Regions from separate parts of the Homo sapiens genome. Here region 2 is linked to region 1. A link means that fine-mapping ties the variant in region 1 to the expression of a gene that starts in the linked region. Tissue or cell type: sigmoid colon. Region 1 holds a variant in brackets; the other region holds the start of a gene. All regions are shown on one strand. Distances are between the middles of the regions.

Region 1 (11,210 bases):
AATTCATAGAAGCGTGATCTCTGGATCAAAGGGAAACTGCAAATGTACTTTTGCTAGATATTGCCCGTTTCCTTTCCGTAGGTAACATTTTGTACCGCCCAGGAGGGAAGGAGAGCGTGTGCTTTCCCACAACCTCTCTTGTTTGTCAAGAGTTTACATTTCTGCCAATCTGATAGGTGCAAAATAGCATCTCATATAGTTTTTTGTTTGTTTGTTTGTTTGTTTTTTTTGAGACAGAGTCTTGCTCTGTCGCCCAGGCTGGAGTGCAGTGGCCCGATCGCGGCTCACTGCAGCCTCCGCCTCCTGGGTTCACACCATTCTCCTACCTCAGCCTCCTGAGTAGCTGGGACTACAGGCGAGCGCCACCACGCCCTGCTAAGTTTTTTTTGTATTTTTAGTAGAGACGGGGTTTCACTGTGTTAGCCAGGGTGGTCTCAATCCCCTGACCTCGTGATCCACCTACCTCGGCCTCCCTAAGTGTTGGGATTACAGGCGTGAGCCACTGCGCCCAGCCGCATCTCATATAGTTTTAACATGTGCTTCTTTTTTATGAGTTGAGCATCTTTTCATGTTTTTTCTTTTCTTTCTTTCTTTTTTTTTTTTAAGACAAAAATCTCACTCTGTTGTGGAGTGCAATGGTGCGATATTGGCTTACTGCAACCTCCGCCTCCCTGGTTCAAGCAATTCTCCTGCCTCAGGCTCCTGAGCAGCGGTGATTACAGGTGTGGTGGAGGGCTAATTTTTGGTATTTTTAGTAGAGATGAGGTTTCACCGTGTTGGCCAGGCTGGTCTTTAACTCCTGACCTCAGGTGATCCCCCTGCCTCAGCCTCTCAAAGTGCTGGGATTACAGGCGTGAGCCACCACACCCAGCCTCATGTGTTCTTTTCCTTTTTAAAAATATATATAAAACTTTGGTCATAATATTGGAATTGAATTATTCATCAGGGCTGAAATAAAATGAAACAAAACTTTTTTTCCCAAAGAATCTCTATCTTGGTGGCTTCACGTACATAAGAAATAGTTTTATGATGTATTAGAGAACAATGGATTTAAAGATAAAGCATGATTTTGTAACAATATTACAAAACAGTTTGAGGCATGAAGTTAAAAAAAGTCACTATCTGAGTGGAATAAGTTCTACAGTTCTGTATTTTCTCCATGCAAATTTGGAGAAAGGTTAATGATAATCTCTTTGTCTGGTATATCACTCTATTACAAAAGGCTCTTACTTGCTTCTTTTCTTTTTTTGAGACAGTCTCCCTCAATTACCCAGGCTGGAGTGCACTGGTGCGATTTCGGTTTACTGCATTCCCAACCTCCTGGGCTCATGTGATTCTCCCATCTCAGCCTCCCGAGTAGCTGGGACTACAGGTGTATGCCACCACACCCGGCTAATTTTTGTATTTTTTGTAGAGATGGGGTTTCACCATGTTGCCCAGGCTGGTCTCGAACTACTCGCTCAAGCCATCAGCCTGGCTCAGCCTCCCAAAGTGCTGAGATTACAGGCGTGAGTCACCACGCCCTGCCCAAGAATCTCACTTTTAATACTGTGGGGCACATTGGACCCATTTTATCCCATTTTATGGATGAGAAAACTGAGACTGAGAGAGGTTTGGAGACTTGTGCAAGGCTATGTGACTAATAAGAGGCAGAGTCACAATTAGAACTCTGGGCCGGGTGCGGTGGCTCATGCCTGCAATCCCAGCACTTTGGGAGGCCAAGGCGGGTGGATCACCTGAGATCAGGAGTTCAAGACCAGCCTGGCCAACATAGTGAAACCCTATCTCTACTAAAAACACAAAAAATTTAGCTGGACATGGTGGCGGGCACCTGTAATCCCAGCTACTCAGGAGGCTGAGGCAGGAGAATCACTTGAAACTGGCAGAGGTTGTAACGTGAGCCGAGATTGCACCATTGCACTCCAGCCTGGGCAATGAGAGCAAAACTCTGTCTCAAACAAACAAACAAACAAACAAAAAAAGAAATAGAACTCCGGCTGTTTGATCAGTATTCTTCAAGTCACTAAAAATTAAACATTAAATTGTGAATTCACATCCTGGGTATTTACGTTTCAGTGGTAGTTCAGAATTTAGGGTTTTTCTTGTGTATTGATAGAAAACTCATTTTAAAAATACTGATTATGGCAATGCAGTTAGTAAGCTAAAATTTTTTCCTTCTATTACTTTTTGTCTTTTTTTAAATTTGAAGTGGAGTCGTGCTCTGTCACCCAGGCTGTCTGGAATGCAGTGGTGCAATCTCAGTTCACTGCAACCTCCACCTCCCGGGTTCAAGCGATCCTCCCACCTCAGCCTCCTGAGTAGCTGGGACTACAAGCACCCACCAGGTTTTTTGTTTTTTTTTAGTAGAGATGGGGTTTTGCCATGTTGCCCTGTCTGGTCTCTGACTCGTGAGCTCAAGTAATCCTCTTGCCTCGGCCTCGCAAAGTCCTTGGATTACAGGTGTGAGCCACTGTGCCCAACCTTCTAAGTTAATGATGTTAATTAAATATTTTTTCATTTGGGGCATGCCCAGCAACTCAGGGTAAGCCAAATTTATAGTTTATGGAGATGCTAAGTAAAGTGGAGACACAGTTTATGCATATGCAGAGGACTCATCTGCCATTTTCAGACTTTCTTGGGTGTTCCTATCAGTTTCCTGTCAGTGACTTCCTCTCTCCCTGATGGTAAAAACTAAACTTGGTAACGTGGTCTGCAGCCCCTGAGAAACCTGCTCCTTCCAACCTCCCGGCTTCATGCTGCTCATTCTCCCCAGCGTTCTTTTTGCCCTAAACACACATTGCATTCTTTCAGTCCTCCAACTTGCCACCCATATTCCTCTTCCTGGGGTGCTTTGCTCTATTTTCTTCACCTAGTTAAGGTCTCATCATTCAGTTCTCAGGCCAAGCATTGCTTATTTGTGGAAGAGGTCTCTGATCCCCCTGGCGAGGCCAGCTTCCCTGTTCATTCTCTCATTGCACCATGAGAGGGCTGCATAGCCCTCCTGACCACTGTCATTTTATAGACTTTTGTGCAGTGACTTGATTAGTGTCTGTCTTTCTCATTGGTGTGTGAATGCCAGGACTCTGGTTTTGCTCAACATGGGGTTCCACAGCCTGGCATAGTTCCTTTGCACATGGCAGGAGTTCAGCAAATATTGATGGGTGCATGACTTTGTTCATGGTTGTCTCTGTGCATCTGCACGGGGGTTCCCTCTGCTTGGCATGCCACTTACACACTGTCTCATCTCTAGATCTTTTTGCACCTTAATATTTTGAGCCTTTAGTAGAAATACATACAGTAGGTTCTCACTTAATGACCTCAATCGGTTCTTGGAAACTGTGACTTTAAGCAAAATGATGTGTGACAAAACCAATTTTTTTTAATCAACGTTATAATAAAACAATGTTGAACAAAACGATGCTATTTGAGGACCTGCTACACATAGTTCTGCTTAAAGTCGCAGTTTCCAAGAACCTATCAAAAACGTTAAGTGAGGACTTACTATGTGTTTAATCATATGATATTTTATGTAACCCAGCTAGCAGCTGAGGCCACATTGCCTTCTAGCTCTACTTCTGCCTGTATTTTTTCTGCTTTATGATCTGTCAACTTGGACACAAACCCCACTCATACTCTTAACCCACTTCCAAGCCTTTATGGGCTTAGTGGCTTTGGTGAGACTTTGAGGGGCTGTCTTCTTTATCACTGCATTGACTCTTCTTTTTTCTCTCTCTTTTAACTTTCTCTTTCCTTCAGTCTCTTCTTCCTCCTTCACTTCAGGAGTGTCACAGACATCTCACCCTTCTCAGGATAATTTTGTGGAAGCCACAGTGCCAGCCAACATCCATGACCCCATGGGTACCTCCCTGGCTGAAGTGGGCTGACCCAGGGTCTTTTCCCAACAATGATGGATCCTGTACAAGATGAATTCTGGTACCTGCTGCTAAAAGGATACAATTTCATTATTGTTATGGGCTGAATGTTGTGTACCTCCAAAATGGGTATGTTGAAATCCTAACCCCCAAGGTGATGGTATCAGGAGGTGGAGGCTTTGGGAGGTGATTAGGCAATGATGAAGAAGCCCTCTTGAATGGGATTAGTGCCCCTTTAGAAGGCACCCCATAGAACGCCCTCATTATGTGAGACACAGTGAGAAGAACCAGGAAGCAGGCCCTCACCAGACATGGAATCTATCAGTGTCTTGATCTGGGACACTCCAGCCTCCAGAACAGTAAGAAATAATAAGTTCCTGTTGTTTATAAGCCAACCAGTTTATGGTATTTTGTTATAAAAGCCAAAATAGACTAAGAACATTATGTTATATTAGAGTGATATCATATAACTGATCAAGTTTGGAGGATGTCCAGTGCCCTAGCCCATGCCGTCTGAGGAGAGGTTGATGAAGAGAATGATGAGAGGAAGTGAGAATAACTTTCTCACCTTTCCTGAGACACATTCCTCCTACCATGGTCCCATTACGGGGCCTTCCTACAATCACTTTCCAGCTTTCCCTTGTTTCCCTGTTTCTACCCTCAGACAAAGTAGTAGAATGATTACATTCTCAAGAGGTCCTGTGAGGATGCTTGGGCAAAATCAGACTCATGTCAGGCCATTTTAATTTCTAGAATCCCCGGATAGGACCTGCGGCCAGCTCAGAAAGACCTGATGGTAATGTGCCATCTTCCCTTCACAAACACTTGAGTGGGTCTGTCTAAATGTCCTAAGTGGACATTTCTGTTATCCTCAGTTTTTCTTCCAGGGTTCGTCGCATTTCTTTGTGAAAAGCTACCTTATGCAAGCATTTTGTGTGATACTGTTCAGAGTCTGAGGTTTTAGCGCTGACCCTGGAGACCGTTAGTTTTATTCTATACTAGGTGTTTGTAAGTGGGGACTTTATTTAGATAAATTGACAACAGCAAAGTGCCACCCCACTTCACCCCAACATTCATTAAGGATTTGCTGTGTCCCAGAAATTATACTCTGGTGGTTATACACATTGCCTCATTATATCCTTAAAACTGCTTTTTGAGACAGATAGGATTGTGATTCCTGTAGCAATCTTGAAACTGGACTCAGAGAGGGTAGGAAGTTTGTTCTAAGGCGCACAGCTATGACCAGCACAACTGAATCTTACCTTAACTCACATCAAAGCCTCTGAGCTTAAATATTAGGCTATTTACCATGGCTGTGAGAGACGGGGAACAAAAAACAGTGTTTAGTTAAATCAACAGCTATGTTTACACTCTCTGTATAAACAGTGCAATGTCC[T/C]CAAAGAAATCACACAAGAAGGAACAGTAACTCCTGCCAACACACTGGTAAACTTGGCTCTGCCAAAACTATTAGCTCTTGTTTTCACTCATCAATGTCTTATGTTTCTTTTGCCATCATCTTTTTTTATTCATTAACCCCAGAGCCTCAACTATCTCTCATTTAAGATAATTGTTCTTATAGTTTTCCAGAAAAACCCATTTCTCCTTTTACTTTTTCCTAGTATCTCTTCCCATAAAAGGCAATGCCCCTAAATTTGTATCATTCCAGGCATTAGAGAACCAAGCTCAGAAACACTTATAAGATTTTTAAGGTTATCGTTCTCCCCCCAAAACACATGCACATTACCTTTGCAGAGTTATTATTCAAAATATAGACTTAGAAGCTCTCTGGGCTATAGTCAGCTGGTAATTAATTATAATGACTTCAAGGTATGTTAAATTTGTACGGGGGTGGGGAGAGGGTCACTTGCAGCCTCAAGAGGACAGAGCACACCGTGAACCAGTTCTGGAACCTGCTTACAGATCTCAAAAGTTCCTGCAGCAGGAGGGCTAATGACATTCTCCCTTCTAGAAAAGCAGAGTGACTCAGGATACAGATGTTCCGCCTACCCTGCATTTGTAATTATGAGCTGGCTGTGGTACTTCCCAGGGAGTCTTTGAATCATCTGTTCTTGCAATTTATCTTGCCGCTGCTCTTTTTAGAACAATCTAGGACATGTCAGCTGAAAACATGTACCAGTTGCTTGCAAAGAAAAGAATGGCTTTTTGTGTGGGGGTGGGGGACACAGAGCGTTCTCTTCCTCCCTCTCTGCTGGGGAACATGGTAGGCAGAATGAGCTAATAATTCTCAGAGAAAAAAATATGAGCCCTGAAGAACCCCAATGCCTAGAGAGCACGAAGTGAAGGTAGCTTAATGTTAGTCCTGGTGTGTATACAATGAGGGCCAGAGCTTCAGGAAGACGTGCTAATTTCACTTTAATTAACACATACTAATGCAAAGGAGATGAACCAGAGAAACTTGAATTTGCAGGCAGACTCATGAAACAAAAGTAAACCTGGTACCTATTGTGAAATCATCTTTGGTGCAGTGTGGCTCAGGAATGTGCCACTCCTGATACTTTTTTTCATCTGCACGTGAGTGTCTGGACTCTGGATTCAGAAAAACAGATGGAACTTTAGGTCAGATGGGTTCCTGAGTCACCCCGACACAGGGGGCAGGCTGTATTTTAAAAATTTGTTGAGTATTTATTTGTACAAAGCATTCTGTAAGGCACTAAACCGTAGTTTCTGCTCTAGTCTTCTTTCAATGACGGGTTCTGGGAGGGGTGATGGAAGCAGAAGTGATAGTTATTTATGTCACAGACTTTGAGAGCAAAAACGTACTTCAGAGGAATGCTTCTCAAAGATTTCTCAAATGCAGGTTCATGGACTAGTGATAATTATGAAATTAACAATTTGGACAAAATGAGAGACAAAGAAACAAGGTGAGCTTTGTATAAAGCTAAATGTGTTCAGTTGAAAAAATTTTTTTTCTTTAGAACATGTGTCCTACTTTTCTTATTTTTAAAAGACCATTTCATGGTGATTTTAGGGGAATAAGACCATTCTCCTTTACCCTCTCATTTCTGCCCCCTTTTCTGCCAGAGGAGAAGCACCTCAAGAAACTGACATCCAGATGGGAATCAAAGTCCCATTTTTGACCTAGTTAAGCCCTGCTTCCAGGCCAGCTCTCGTGAAGCTGCGATATGGACTTTTAGTTGGCAGGCCTGAGGGCAGCCTTCTACTTTCTCCCCTGAAACCAGATTCAGACAGGTCCCTTCTACAAGGTCCTTCTGACTCATTCCTGGTCACGGGCAGAGGGGGTGGAGCAGAAAGTGAATTACAGATTTGCTGAGGTCAGCCCTGCTCAGCTTGCTGGCTACACAAAGATAAAGACATTTACAGGTAACACTGACTCTGTACCTTGCCCACTGGGGAACCATGCACTGTGATGCCAGCCCTCACTCATCAGATTCAGTACTTCTCTTCCTTTTGGATGGCAGGGAAGTGGAGTGGAAGCTTTCCTCCCCGCATTGGTCTAGAGGTAGAAGTGTGCGGGGAGGAAGATCTTTCCTCCATGGATCAACATGGGGAATGCAGGGGGGTGCTGGGTAAGCTGCGGTATTCACTAAAAGAGCCTCAAGAAGCCTTGAATTTCATTGCAACCTGCCAGCATTGGATAGCTTAGAGTTATCCAAAGAATCATAAGTGTTCTTAATTCCACAGCTGGGCTAAGAAGGATTTTTTTTTTATTGAAGATTAAAGTGTTAAATGCTGGTAAAATACACATAACATAAAATTTACCACGTTAATCATTTTTAAATCCACAGTTTAATGGCATTAAGTACATTCACATTGTTATGCTATCATTGCTACTATCCAAACTGAAACTCTATGCCCATTAAACAATAACTCCCCATTCTCATCTCCTCCCAGTTCCTGACAACCATTCTGCATGTCTTTATGATTTTTTTGTTTTTTTTTTGAGACAGGTTTCACTCTTTTGCCCAGGCTGGAGTGCAGTGGCACGATCTTGGCTCACCGCACCCTCAACCTCTGGCCACAAGTGATCTTCTCATCTTAGCCTTCTAAGTAGCAGGGACTATAGGCATGTGCCACTATGCCCAGCTAAATTTTTGTATTTTTTGTAGAGGTGAGGTCTTACCATGTCACCCAGGCTGGTCTCAAACTCCTGAGCTTGAGCAATCTGCCTGCCTCTGCCTCCCAAGGTGCTAGGGTTATAGGTGAATACCACTGCACCCAGACTTCTCTATGAATTTAACTGCTCCAGATTCCTCATGTAAGTGGAATTGTGCAGTATTTATCTTTCTGTATCTGGCTTATTTCGCTTAGCCTAAGTCCTCAGGGTTCATCAATGTTGTAGCATGTGTCAGAATGTCCTCCCTTTTTAAGACTGAGTCATATTCTATTGCATGTATTTAACTGTTTGTTCTCTAAGGGATTTGAGACAAACCCTCAGCATGGTAGCCAGTACCTGCCACATTAATATGAATAGTTCTGGGAATGGCCTAAAGTTTTGTGGGCAATTCTAGCATCTTCCTGAGCACAGAGCTGGAGAGTGCACAGAGGCCCAGGGTAAATTCTGTATCTCTGCTGAGAAACAGCTATTGCAACCAAGAAAGAGGTATGGGGTGCCTACCCAGTCCCTGGGCACTATTTCAGTGGCTGCTCCCTTAAGATCCCTCCCATTGGAAGCTCGCTTGTGGATTGTACCTCAAACTATTGGCTTGCTCTTGAAAGTGCCTTTTGTGCTGGTGGGATCCTACAATCCTCTGTCTGTAGCACTTACGAAAGAGACAGTTTTGCTGTCAGGATTATGTTCTTGAGAAGTTTCTACTATACCCCAAATCAAGTGAGAGAAAATGTTGAACCTTAATGTCTTCAGCCTTTAATTTACCAAAGTCAAAGGATTTCATCTTTAGACTTCAACCTCTCTTTGAAACTGTAATCACTGATGTGAGTTTATGTAAATTTGGGCATTTTTGTGTGGTTGGCTTTGCCTTATTTGGAACATTTTAGACTTTCATGTGGTGTTTATTATAAAATGTCATGAGTTATGTTGGGTATTAGGTGGAATATAATTGGAGATGGAAAATTTAAAAAGCAATGAATTTTGGCTTTCAGTGTGTGCAGTCTTGAAGTTTTCTTCTTTCTTTTTTTCCATTTTATTTTATTTCATTTTATGTTTTTAGAGACAGAGTCTTGCTATGTTGCCCCAGCTGGTCTCGAACTCCAGGGCTCAAGTGATCTTCCCACCTCAGCCTCCTGAGTAGCTAGGACTACAGGCATATACCATCATGCCCAGCAAAGTTATCTTAATTCTGTCCTTACTGATTTCAGAGCCTTCTGGGGCAATAGCTGAGCTGCCCATTTTACAGATCCCAGAAGCAGACACAAGGAGAAGCATGGGATGGGAGTAGGGCTCAGCTTTGTGGAGGTGGAAGGGGCACTGCTCTGAGATTACTCTGCCCACTGGCTTCAGGTGTGTTTATGAAATCTCACTGATGGAGAGATGCCAGCTAGTGTCTCCTTAGTCTGCCTTAAGAGACCCTCTGTTACTCTGCAGGCATTAGGCACTTGACCAATCCACTAATAAAGTTGTTTTTTTTTGATCTTCATCTGGATCTCAGTGTCAATTCTCCACTGGTTGGAACCAGCGTGGGAGGAGGGATGATCAGAGTTGTTATCTTTAATGTATTTCTTTTTTTCTTTTTCTTTTTTTTTGAGATGGAGTCTTGCTCTGTAGCCCAGGCTGGAGTACACTGGTGCAATCTTGGCTCACTGCCACCTCCATTTCCCGGGTTCAAGCAATTCTCCTGCCTCAGCCTCCTGAGTAGCTGGGATTTCAGGTGCCCGCCACCATGCCCAGCTCATTTTTGTATTTTTAGTAGAGATGGGGTTTCACCCTGTTGGCCATGCTGGTCTTGAACTCCTGACCTCAAGTGATCTGCCAACCTCGGCCTCCCAAAGTGCAGGGATTACAGACATGAGCCACCACTCCTGGCCCTTTAATGTATTTCAAACAACAAAGAGTTGGCAAGCCCATGTGAATTCCCAAAATTAATTCTTTTTTTCTTTGAGATGGAGTCTCGCTCTGTCGCCCAGGCTGGAGTGCAGTGGCGCGATCTTGGCTCACTGCAAGCTCTGCCTCCCGGGTTCACGCCATTCTCCTGCCTCAGCCTCTTGAGTAGCTGGGACTACAGGCGCCCGCGACCACGTGCAGCTAATTTTTTGTATTTTTAGTAGAGACAGGGTTTCACAGCATTAGCCAGGATGGTCTCGATCTCCTGACCTCGTGATCCACCCGCTTTGGCCTCCCAGAGTGCTGGGATTACAGGCGTGAGCCACATCACCCGGCCAATTAATTTTTTTTTTTTTCAAACTGATCCATGGACTCATCTTCTGGAATCCACTGCCTTAAAGATCATGCAAATCTATGTGCTCATTTTACAAAAGAGGAATGTGAAGCCCAGGGAGTTTATTTAACTTGCTGATGGGCACAGATGGTGATCAAGCTGTGCTCAGAGCTGCAAGCTGTTTCCATCAAACCTGCTAGAAGCCTCCAGCTGAGATTAGGGCCCCGGCCACATTCACCTCCTAGGATTTGCAGTGGTGTAAAACGTGCCCCAGGATGTGCAGTGGTCTGGGGGAAGGCGGGAGAGACCCCTGGACCTGTGCTGGCATAGCTACCATGTCCATGACACTGGGAGGCTAAGATGGAGAGGAAAACAAGATGAGTCCAGCTTCCCTACTCAAAAGCCACAAAACAGTACAGTCAAGGACAATCCTGGTCTCATCTACACTATAGGCATTTCAGGAGGACCAAATTAGGTAACCAAGATGTGGGTGCTTGAAAAATTATGATGTATAATCTGAAAGCAATGTTAGCATCAGGCTACCGAGACAATCTTGTGTGGGCCAAGTGTGGAATCAGCATCATCATTTTATAAGCATGCTTCATGGGCCAGGTTTTCACATCAGCCTTGATATCTCCATCCAAAGCAAACTCACCCATTCATACTGGAGAAAAACTCTTCTTGATTTTTATGTAGTGAACTGAGATTCCTCTAATGCCTCACAAAGATATTTTTCCAATTTCAGATGGGAACCTGTCTTCCTTAAACTTTTCCTTTTTATAGCCCCCTGTAAAGATTTTGATATCATCTCATGTAATCTTCTTATTCCCAATTTTTTAAATGAGTTCTTTAGAGTTCTTCATTATACTGTGAGTAGAAAATTCCAAGTTATCAGTTTATCTGTTTTAGCCAAGGATTGAAAAGACATTTAGTATAATTTACAAGGAGGAAAATGTAAGGAAATAGGAGATTTTAACTAGATATTAAATAGAAGGAAACAAAACAACCTTTACAACTGCTTTTC
Region 2 (9,582 bases), 52 kb before region 1:
GAGATGTCATCTCTAGCAAAAATGAAAAAAATCAGCCAGCAAGATGACTCACTCCTGTGGTCCCAGCTACTCAGGAGGCTGAGACGGAAGGACTGCTTAAGCCCAGGAGGTGAGGCTGTGGTGAGTCATGATTGCGCCATTGCACTCCAGCCTGGGTGACAGAGTGAGACTCTGTCTAAAAAACAAACAAACAAAAAAAGGATGAAATCCTGAAATTCAGCCTTCTAACTAACAACATAAAAACTGGAAAGAAATTACTAAAATCCCTTCTTGGAACATACCCATTCACATCTAGAGTGGACTAGCACTGAAAGGCAATATAACCTTCTAAACCTACTTTCACAGGCATGCATGGTAAAAACTGTCAAAATCTCACCGGAGGGACTCTTGGAGGGTAAAGCTAGGTACTGATGAAAAATTCTTGGCCAGGCGTGGCAGCTCATGCCTGTAATCCCAGCATTTTGGGAGGCCGAGGCAGGTGGATCACCTGAGGTCGGGAGTTCGAGACCATCCTGGCCAACATGGTGAAACCCTGTCTCTACTAAAAATACAAAAATTAGCTGGGCGTGGTGGCAGGCACCTGTAATCCCAGCTACTCGGGAGGCTGAGGCAGGAGAATTGCTTGAACTCGGGAGGCAGAGGTTGCAGTGAACCGAGATCATGCCATTGCACTCCAGCCTGGGCGACAAGAGTGAAACTCCATCTCAAAAAAAAAAAAGAAAAAAGAAAAATTCTCATAATTACTTGGAGGAAGACTACCTGGCTTACCTCAGATTTATTGTAATAAGAGTTCTCTATATTCGGCATTCCAAGTTTCCCATATTTTATTTGCATATGGTTCACAAAGGACATGTGTATTTGAGTGGATGCTTTCCAGCTAAGATCATTAATGGCAATGTCCCAAATACATTAAACTGGCAATCTAGGACATTTGAAGGCTAAAGTAGGGGCAGTAATGTAGAGCTGAAAAAAACAGAAGGTAGTACCGTATGTGGGGGGGAAAAAAGCAACTCCACCATAATTTCCATTATATCTTCTCACATTGTTGAATAATACCCTTCCTTATTAAGACACAATTTTGATAAAGAAATTTCGATCTCTTTAATGAGATCCTTTTTAGTTTATACTTTCAGTTGAATCTCTCTAAACTAAATAATGTTATACCGAAGCTTAATGCTTCCTATATGAAGATTTTCAAGGGATAGAAACTGAATAATTCTTTACTTAATAACTGTGAAAGCATATACCTGTATGTCATACAGCAAAAACATGCAAACTTTTGAATTACCTCCAATAAAAAAATAGCAAAATGCATTTCCTATTCAAATACACTTAAAAGCAACTTCTTTAGTTGCTTTTATAAGAATACACATAAAATAAGAAAACATATAAAAGTTTTTGTGGTCAGCCAACAGTTCCTTTTAATGTCTAGTTGCAAATTTTTGATCTATAAACTTTCTTTTTAAAATGCTTTTCAGCCGGGTGCAGTGGCTCACACCTGTAATCCCAACACTTTGGGACGTCAAGGCAGGCAGATCATGAGGTCAGGGTATCGAGACTACCCCTGGCCAACATGCTAAAACCCCAACTCTACTAAAAATACAAAAATTAGCTAGGTGTGGTGGCACGTGCCTGTAGTCCCAGCCACTCAGGAGGCTGAGGCAAGAGAATTGCTTGAACCTGGGAGATGGAGGTTGCAGTGAACCAAGATCGCACCACTGCACTCCAGCCTGGGCTACAGAGCGAGACTCCATCTCAAAAAAGAGAATAATAATAATAAAATGAAATGGTTTTCAAGATCAACTTCTACAAGACTATAGGTAACAAAATTAAATACCCACATCCCACCTGGACAGTAATACAGAAACACTTAAATATACACAATTTTTAATAAAGAAAAACACAAATCAAAAGCCCAGAAATTATCAAGAAATATTCGGCTCCGCCGTCAGGATTTCAGGTCCAGCGAGGCTGAGTTAATGGCCAGAGTAGCAGAGTCCCCAATTTTAGTTCTACTTCCTCATTTACCGCGCTGCATAAACAGGTCTGTGGAAATTTAACCTCTCTGAGCTGCAGCTGCCTGATTTGTAAAACTGTGATTCCATTTTTGATATATTACAACAGAGTACTGCATCAGATAATTCCTCAAGCTATTTCTAGCTTAAAGATTTAAGTTTTATGTCTCCCTACTACTTAACGCCTTTATAACACTTCATTCTGTTTCTGCTACTTGATATTAATATATACTCTTAATTTTCAAATTTAAAAATATCTGAGGGCCAGGCGCGGTAGTTCACGCCTGTAATCCCAGCACTTTGGGAAGCAGAGGCAGGTCGATCACTTGAGGTCAGGAGTTCAAGACCAGCCTGGCCAACAGGGAGAAACCCTATCTCTATTAAAAAACAGAAAAATTAGCTGGGCATGGTGGTGTGCACCTGTAGTCCCAGCTACTTGGGAGGCTGAGACATGAGAACCGCTTGATCCTGGGAGGCAGAGGCCACAGTGAGAGGAGGTCACATCACTGCACCTCCAGCCTGGGTGACACAGTGAGACTGTCTCAAAAAAAAAAAAAAAAAATCAGGCTGAATGTGGTGGCTCACGCCTGTAATCCCAGCACTTTGGGAGGCCAAGGTGGGTGGATCACTGGAGGTTAGGAGTTTGAGACCAGTCAGGCCAACATGGTGAAACCCTGTCTCTATTAAAAATACAAAAATTAGCCTGATGTGGTGGCATGTGCCTGTAGTCCCAGCTACTTTGGGGGATGAGACAGGAGAATCGCTTGAACCCAGGAGGCAGAGGTTGCAGTGAGCCAAGATCGCGCCACTGTACTCCAGCCTGGGTGACAGAGCGAGACTCCGTCTCAAAAAATAAAATAAAATATAAATAAACAGATCTGACAACTAGAAGTATCTGTGAAAAAAGAAAAAAAATCAAGTAGCACATTTCCCCCCATTTAATATTAATAAGTGCTTGAGACTTTCATTTTTATCCTAAGACCTTGTAAAGATAAAAGACGACCTTTTGGCTTTTAAGTATTCTATACGCATGGGACACAAATTCAAACACCTTATAGGTAACCAGTGTATGAACTGGCCACTGTGAGATAACATGAAGAGAAAAGGCATCGGGTGATCTAGAAAGTGTCCATATTCCCTGAATGCATTTAAACTAAAAAAATTTATTTAAAAGTGCTGGCCAGTTTGAAACACATTCTATACAACCACTAAAAAACGCTTTCAGCCACTAAACTTACAAGTCCATGTTTCCAACTGTGATATTGTTTCATTTTTTCCATCCAATTTGTGACTTTATTTCATTTCGGTATATATCTCCCATTAGATAAAAATAACCTTCCTGTTTGCAGAAATCGTTGCCACATGGATAAAATCTACTTTTTACTTTTAGAAAAACATATTATCTCCTTATTATCCCTTTGGGGCAATTAACCAAGCATGTGAGGGCACCGAGAAATTAGTTTTGGTCTTACTGAAACCAAACAGCAAAGCTTGAATCTATTTCTGACTTTCTAAACTTGTTTCTCAACCTGTTTGTCACGATCCCTTTTGAAAAACAAAGATCTCAGATTATCCATCTCGGGACACTGACACTACATCCAAAAGATATATCTCTTGTGGCAGGAGATATACGCAGTGTATACTGTGTTTTTACATCAACAAATAAGTTTTTTTTTTAAAAAAAGCTTTATATTCTGTCATTTATATTATGAACACATTAATTATTCAAATACAAAATTATAATCACAATTTTGAAAACACACAAACCACTGAGCAATTACGATATGGTCCCCTGGAGCATATAGCTACCCTCTTCTGTAAAAAACACGTTACAGAAAACATGTTTACTGACGTAAAGTGAGCCCTGGGGCAAAGTAAACTTTTAAAGGGATCAACATATGAAATGTGTTTTAGCTGCTCAAATATCATGATTACTATCCTTAAAATAATCACACTAAGTGACCATTTCTTAAAACAGAAACTGTGAAAAACTGAAACTAAATTGCTGAAAATAACAAAACTCATTTGGATGAAAAAGAATAAAACATTGCTGACTCTGGGGTTGTGATCTGACAAGTTGGAAAACATTACCAGGACTTCCTGCTTCCATTTCTGACGTGGTTTCTAGGCTTGTTAGGTCTTTATGAAACAGTCGTCTTACAGTTCTGCAGCCTCTTGTGTCTTGCCACCTATAACCATCTTCATTTTCTTGAAAGGAGTCTTTTCTTTGTCGGTTTATAACAGGAATTCTAGGTCCAGGTTTGAATTCTCTCCAGTTGTCTGAATTACCAGTATGTTCATCAGACAGCCATCTCTTACTCTGATCTTTGTGGCTGTCATTCATCCAAGCGGGTTGACTGTAGATTGGGTTTTTAAATGCATATGGATTGCTGGAAACAGCACATGGTCCTTTTCTGGGGGTATTCCCATAGTTCCCTGGTGTTATCTTCTTTTTTTGAAGGCCCTTTTCCATTTTACTGCCATGGCCTTTAGCATGGTCATCTATTATTAAATAATCTTGTTGGGGGTGACCCCTTCTGAAGTCATCATCATCCATAGTCCCCCGGTCTTTAGTGCGCTTCACGAAATAAGGTTTTGCTGTATCTCCCATGGTCTTTGACTTCAATTTTCTTACTTTGCACCTGAAAGAAGGTATTTTGGGGAAATATCAAACTATATAACAAGATATCATACAAGTATACAAAATAACAATTTATCGTACAGATGCCCCAAAGCCTGTAAGAAAGAAACTCCCTATTTTTTTAAAATAAAAATTCTATCACATTCTTAATAATCAGTGCTTTACCCTAGAGGTTGGGAGGCTTGGTCCTCTAATATTCTTCATGAAAATTAATACTTACTATTTAGCATGAAGATTAAATGTGTGAATAAGAGAAGCTCTATAGGTTCCAGAACTGTAGCATAGTAGAATATTACTCATATCAAGTATGGTCGGCTTTTCCCTCTGTAACAAGGCGTTTCTCTTCAAAGAAAACCTCATCCCAAGCCAATATTATTACTAAACTACCGAAACAGTCTTTTGTTTTTTAAGTTGGCAATTACTTGTAAGTGTTATACACCGAAACTTTACGTGAAAGGAGTACTACATTTCTCAACTCCAATTTTCCGTCCCTTCACCACCCCTATTCTGGACAGACCGGCTTTGAGCGCTTAGGTTACGGAGGGGCTGGGCTTCCGACCAAGGTGCAGCTGTAATTAAAGAGGCTGGGTTTCCGATCAAGGGACAACTCCATCTAACCTCCTCAATCCCCGTTCTCCAACCCCAAACAAGTTTGGTTTTGTCAGGAACAGCAATTCCCTGAGGAATGACACTCCTCTTCAATCCCCATCTGACCGCTCCACCACCGATCTGCCTTAGTTTCCACCCTTTTGAGCCCGACGTGGAGAAAGAGGAGGCGTCCCTGCACTCCTGGCCAAGAAGCCACCGTGGGGACCAGGAAGCAGGAAGTGACCTGCTGTCTCCATGGGGTTCCAGGGTTCCCCCGGCCGGCCAGGGGGCCAGAGCCGAATGTCTTGACCCAAATCCCGTCTTCTGCGCCCGCAGTCTGACAAAAAGTGAAAACACGGACTCGAACCCGAGGGCTCAGCCTCTGCCGGCCTGGGGGTTCCTCGGTCACCCAAACTGGTGCGAGGAGGCCGGCGGGGGATGGAACCAACGTACCTCCGGGGCCAGGCCGGACAGCTACTCTGGAGTCCAGGAAACCAACTGGAGAATCAGCCCGGAGGCGAGTCTGGCAGGGACGTTGGGAGAAGGCGCCCAAGAGCACTCACCACCTTCGCCGCGGTCCCCAGCCTCTTCCTGTCCCGGCCGGGCTCCCTCTCCGTGTTTTCCTTCGGCCCCACTTCCGGCGCTCAGCGCTGTCTCATTGTGCGCGATTGGGAGCCGACTGTGCCCCCGCCCTAGCGCTCCGCCGCGCACACCGGAAACGAGCGACGCGCCCCGCCCCGCGGTGCCCCGCCCACGCTCCGACCCCGCCTCCCGCGCCTTTGCCAGCCTGGCCTCTCCTGTCCGGCGCCCCAGCGCACTCGCTCCAGGTGTCGGGCGCCGGGTCTGGCCACCGGGCGCAACCGTCGGAGCGGGCTAATTACTGGCTCGCCGGATAGCCGGTTCGCCGGCGCTTGGGGGCCAGGCCCGAACTTCTTACCAGAGCGGCGCCCGCCCCTTTTCTCTCCCGGCTTCGACGCTCCTCTGGTTCCCCTCTCTGCTCGGGAGGCTAAGTGCTCGGGAGAGGCGCGGGAGCCAAGACTTATGCACCCGGAGAGGGACGCGGAGCCAGCGGTCGGGCAAAGCCGCATTCCCCGCGCTTGGGGCCTCGGCTTTGCCCCTGGGTGCTCCCCGGTTACTTCCAGGGGGAGTAAAGGCTCCGAGGCCTCGTAGCGCTCTTGGTGTTTTTCTGATAATTCGTAGTGATTAATGTTTTCGTGAATTCTTAATTGCCGACCTTGTAGAAATGCCAGCATTTAAACATCCACTGCTCACCCAGATCTCAAAGTGGTCAAGGAAAATGCTCTGCTTTTTTCTTAGGTTGTGTAAGGATTACTTTTACTTGGAAAAAAAAAAAATCAGTTCATTTCGAAGAATATGTGTAATGGCAAGGGATGACCAGAGAGCGTTACATTCGAATTTTTGAGTTGAAGAGTGCACACCTCGAACTCGGGGTTGCTTTTTCTTTCTTTACTGTATGACCTTCCTTGCTGTTTACAGTGTTCTAAATGCTTTGAAAAACATCAAGCAACTAGTGAAATTAGGGAGCGTTGGGAAAATCGACAGTTTTCATTTCTCTGCTTTTTTAAAGCATGTAAATTGAAAGCTGTCAGGTCCTGTGGAGCAATGGTCTTAAAATAATAACACACAAAGTTCTGGCTATGCCAATAACTGTTTTGAAGGCTTTACAAATATTAACTCCTTTGTTTTATATTTTTGTAGAGACAGGGGTCTCCTATGTTGCCCAGGCTGCTCTCCAATTCCTGACCTCAAGCCATCCGCCCAACTTGGCCTCCCAAAGTGTTGGGATTACAGGGGTGGTCCACCATACCCAGCCTTAACTTCTTTAATCCTCACAGCTTCATGAAGACTATATCATTATCCCACTTTTAAAGATGAGGACATTTAGCACTTGCAGTGAAGTAAATGGCACTGCTGCAATCCAGACCCTGAATATGAGGCTGTTATTAACCATGTGGCTATACTAAAAGTGATATAAAACACATTCCTACAACTTTTATATAATTCCTTACTTAGATATTTTGATTGTGAAAATACGTGAGGATCAAACTGATAGTCTCTTCAACAGGCAGACAGTGGCCTTGAAAATATAGTCCAAAAGGGAGTGTGGAGATGCATGATTACATTAATTCTGAGACAGCAGCGTCACCACGCCCCACCCAAACCAGTAATTCCTGTGCAAAAGAACTGGTTTAGAAATCTGCCTCCACCTAGAGTTCTAGAGTAGCAGCAGAGGATACATACTTTTAAGGATTTTTTTTTTTTTTTTGAGATGGAGTGCCACTCTGTTGCCCAGGCTGGAGTGCAGTGGCATGATCTCCGCTGGCTGCAACCTTTGCCTCCACCTAGAGTTCTAGAGCAGCAGCAGAGGATACATCTTTCTAAGGATTTAATTTTTTTTTTTTGAGACAGAGTCTTACTGTGTTGCCCAGGCTGGAGTGTAGTGGTGCGATCTTGGCTTACTGCATCCTCTGCCTCCCAGGTTCAAGTGATTCTCCTGCCCCAGCCTCCCAAGTAGCTGGGATTGCAGACAGGCACCACTATGCCTGGTTAAGTTTTGTATTTTTAGTAGAGACGGGGTTTCACCATGTTGGCCAGGCTGGTCTGGAACTCCTGACCTCAAGTGATCCACCGGCCTTGGCCTCCCAAAGTGCTAGGATTACAGGCGTAAGCCACCAGGCCTGGCCCGATTTAAAATACTTTTGCCAGGCACTTTGGCTCCTGCTTGTAGTCCCAGCAACCCTGGAGACTGAGGTAGGAGGATACCTTAAGCCCAGGAGTTGGAGGCTGCAGTGAGCTATGATGGTGCCACCACACTCCAGCCTAGGCAACAGGGCAATACCCTGTCTCTCTCAAAAATAAATTTAAAAAATAAAACGTTTTGAATTTGCGTTTTCTTCAACGTCTTTCCCAAAGCCCAACTTCTTTTATTCTAATGGTTGCTTTTAAGATTCATTTTGAGGACAAATCAGGCTCTCTCAAATAAGATGCAGTACTAATCAAAATATATTGACAGCAGAATATACCTTTTTCTGTCCATATTATGCTGTAATGGATATTTAAATTGGTCCTAGGAATTCTTACAATCTGGTTGGAAATTTTGATTTGAGTTTTCTTTGGATGTCACTGGAAGGATTAATGAGTTTCTCAGAATCTTTATGGTGATTGCTTCACGGTCTTGACATATTTCCAACAACCTGGAGCAGAAATGTGAGGGCAAAGGCTGCCATATACTGTTAAGCAATGTTCAGAGGACCTTAATACTGCTCCATATGTTACAATATATTTTCTATCTTGAGCTTAACATTGTAATACAACTTGAAATCTTGTGATTCTATCTCGAAATTAACATTTAATACATAATATGTCTTGACATTCTTGTAATTCTATCTAGAAATTAACATTGTAGTACATGTAATACATCTTGGCATTTTTGTAATTCTATCTTGAAATTCACATTGTAATACATGTAATACATCTTGAAGTTTACATTGTAACACATGTAATACATCTTGACATTCTTGTAATTCTATCTTGAAATTAACATTGTAATACATCTTGACAAGTCAACTTTGAACAAACCCAGTGCTTTTTTTCTATACAGCCATGGAGTCAGAAATACAGGAATTATATTCATAGCTTTATCAGCCAAATTCTTTCCCCAGTGTTTTATTTTGTTTGGTTTGGTTTGGTTTTCGGTTTTTAGAGCTCTAATGCTTAAATGCCAGCGGTTTTTATCCACATTGTTAGCAAGTTATGTTGGTTTGTCCTTCAAATCTGTCTGGAGTCCAGTAACTTATCACTACTTTCTCTGCTTCCAGCCAAATGCTCACCACTATCACTTGCTTCCACCTTGTCCTCCAATCTACTCTTGACACAATAGCCAGAAAATGCATATTAAAAATCAGACTGAGTTACCCCTCAAAACCTTTCACTGGCTCCCAATTTCTCTGGGAGTAAAAACCAAAATCCTTCAATGACTCAGGGCCTTTCCCTTTACCTCCCGATCTCAGCCCTTATTCCTCTTACCCCAGTGGTATAATATAAAATATATTTGGCCTTTGTCCCCAGTTTCTGTCATAGAGCTCTTAAAATCCTTGAAATTTCCTGAGTGATAGAAGTGTCTTTCCGTGTTTATAGTGAGCCCCTAAACTCCTGAGTTTATGCTAATGAGATGATTTAGGATGGGGGCCCTACATAGCCTCAGCATGGGGCTAATCACCAGAAAGACCAAGTGATTGGAGGATTAGAGGGTTAGAACTTTGAGCTTCACCAACTGACCTCTGTGAAGGGGAGGAGGGGGCCGGAGATCAAGCTCTC

Evidence for each region. PIP is the estimated chance that this variant, and not a neighbour inherited with it, causes the effect.
Region 2: it holds the start of TUT7, and the variant in region 1 is fine-mapped to the expression of TUT7 in sigmoid colon (GTEx, PIP 0.96).

Annotation. Positions count from the first base shown.
Region 1 is chr9:86,400,132-86,411,341 of GRCh38, forward strand. No RefSeq gene overlaps it. Among named protein-coding and RNA genes, the nearest start is that of TUT7, 51 kb to the left of the region's middle. RefSeq lists an enhancer at 10,077-10,674. The variant T/C (reference allele first, on the strand shown) is at 5,269.
Region 2 is chr9:86,348,574-86,358,155 of GRCh38, forward strand. It overlaps TUT7 (terminal uridylyl transferase 7), which reads right to left and starts at 5,837. Exons shown (of 27, transcript NM_024617.4): 1 at 5,698-5,837; 2 at 4,107-4,657. The coding sequence starts at 4,626. RefSeq lists an enhancer at 5,686-5,895 and a silencer at 5,916-6,095.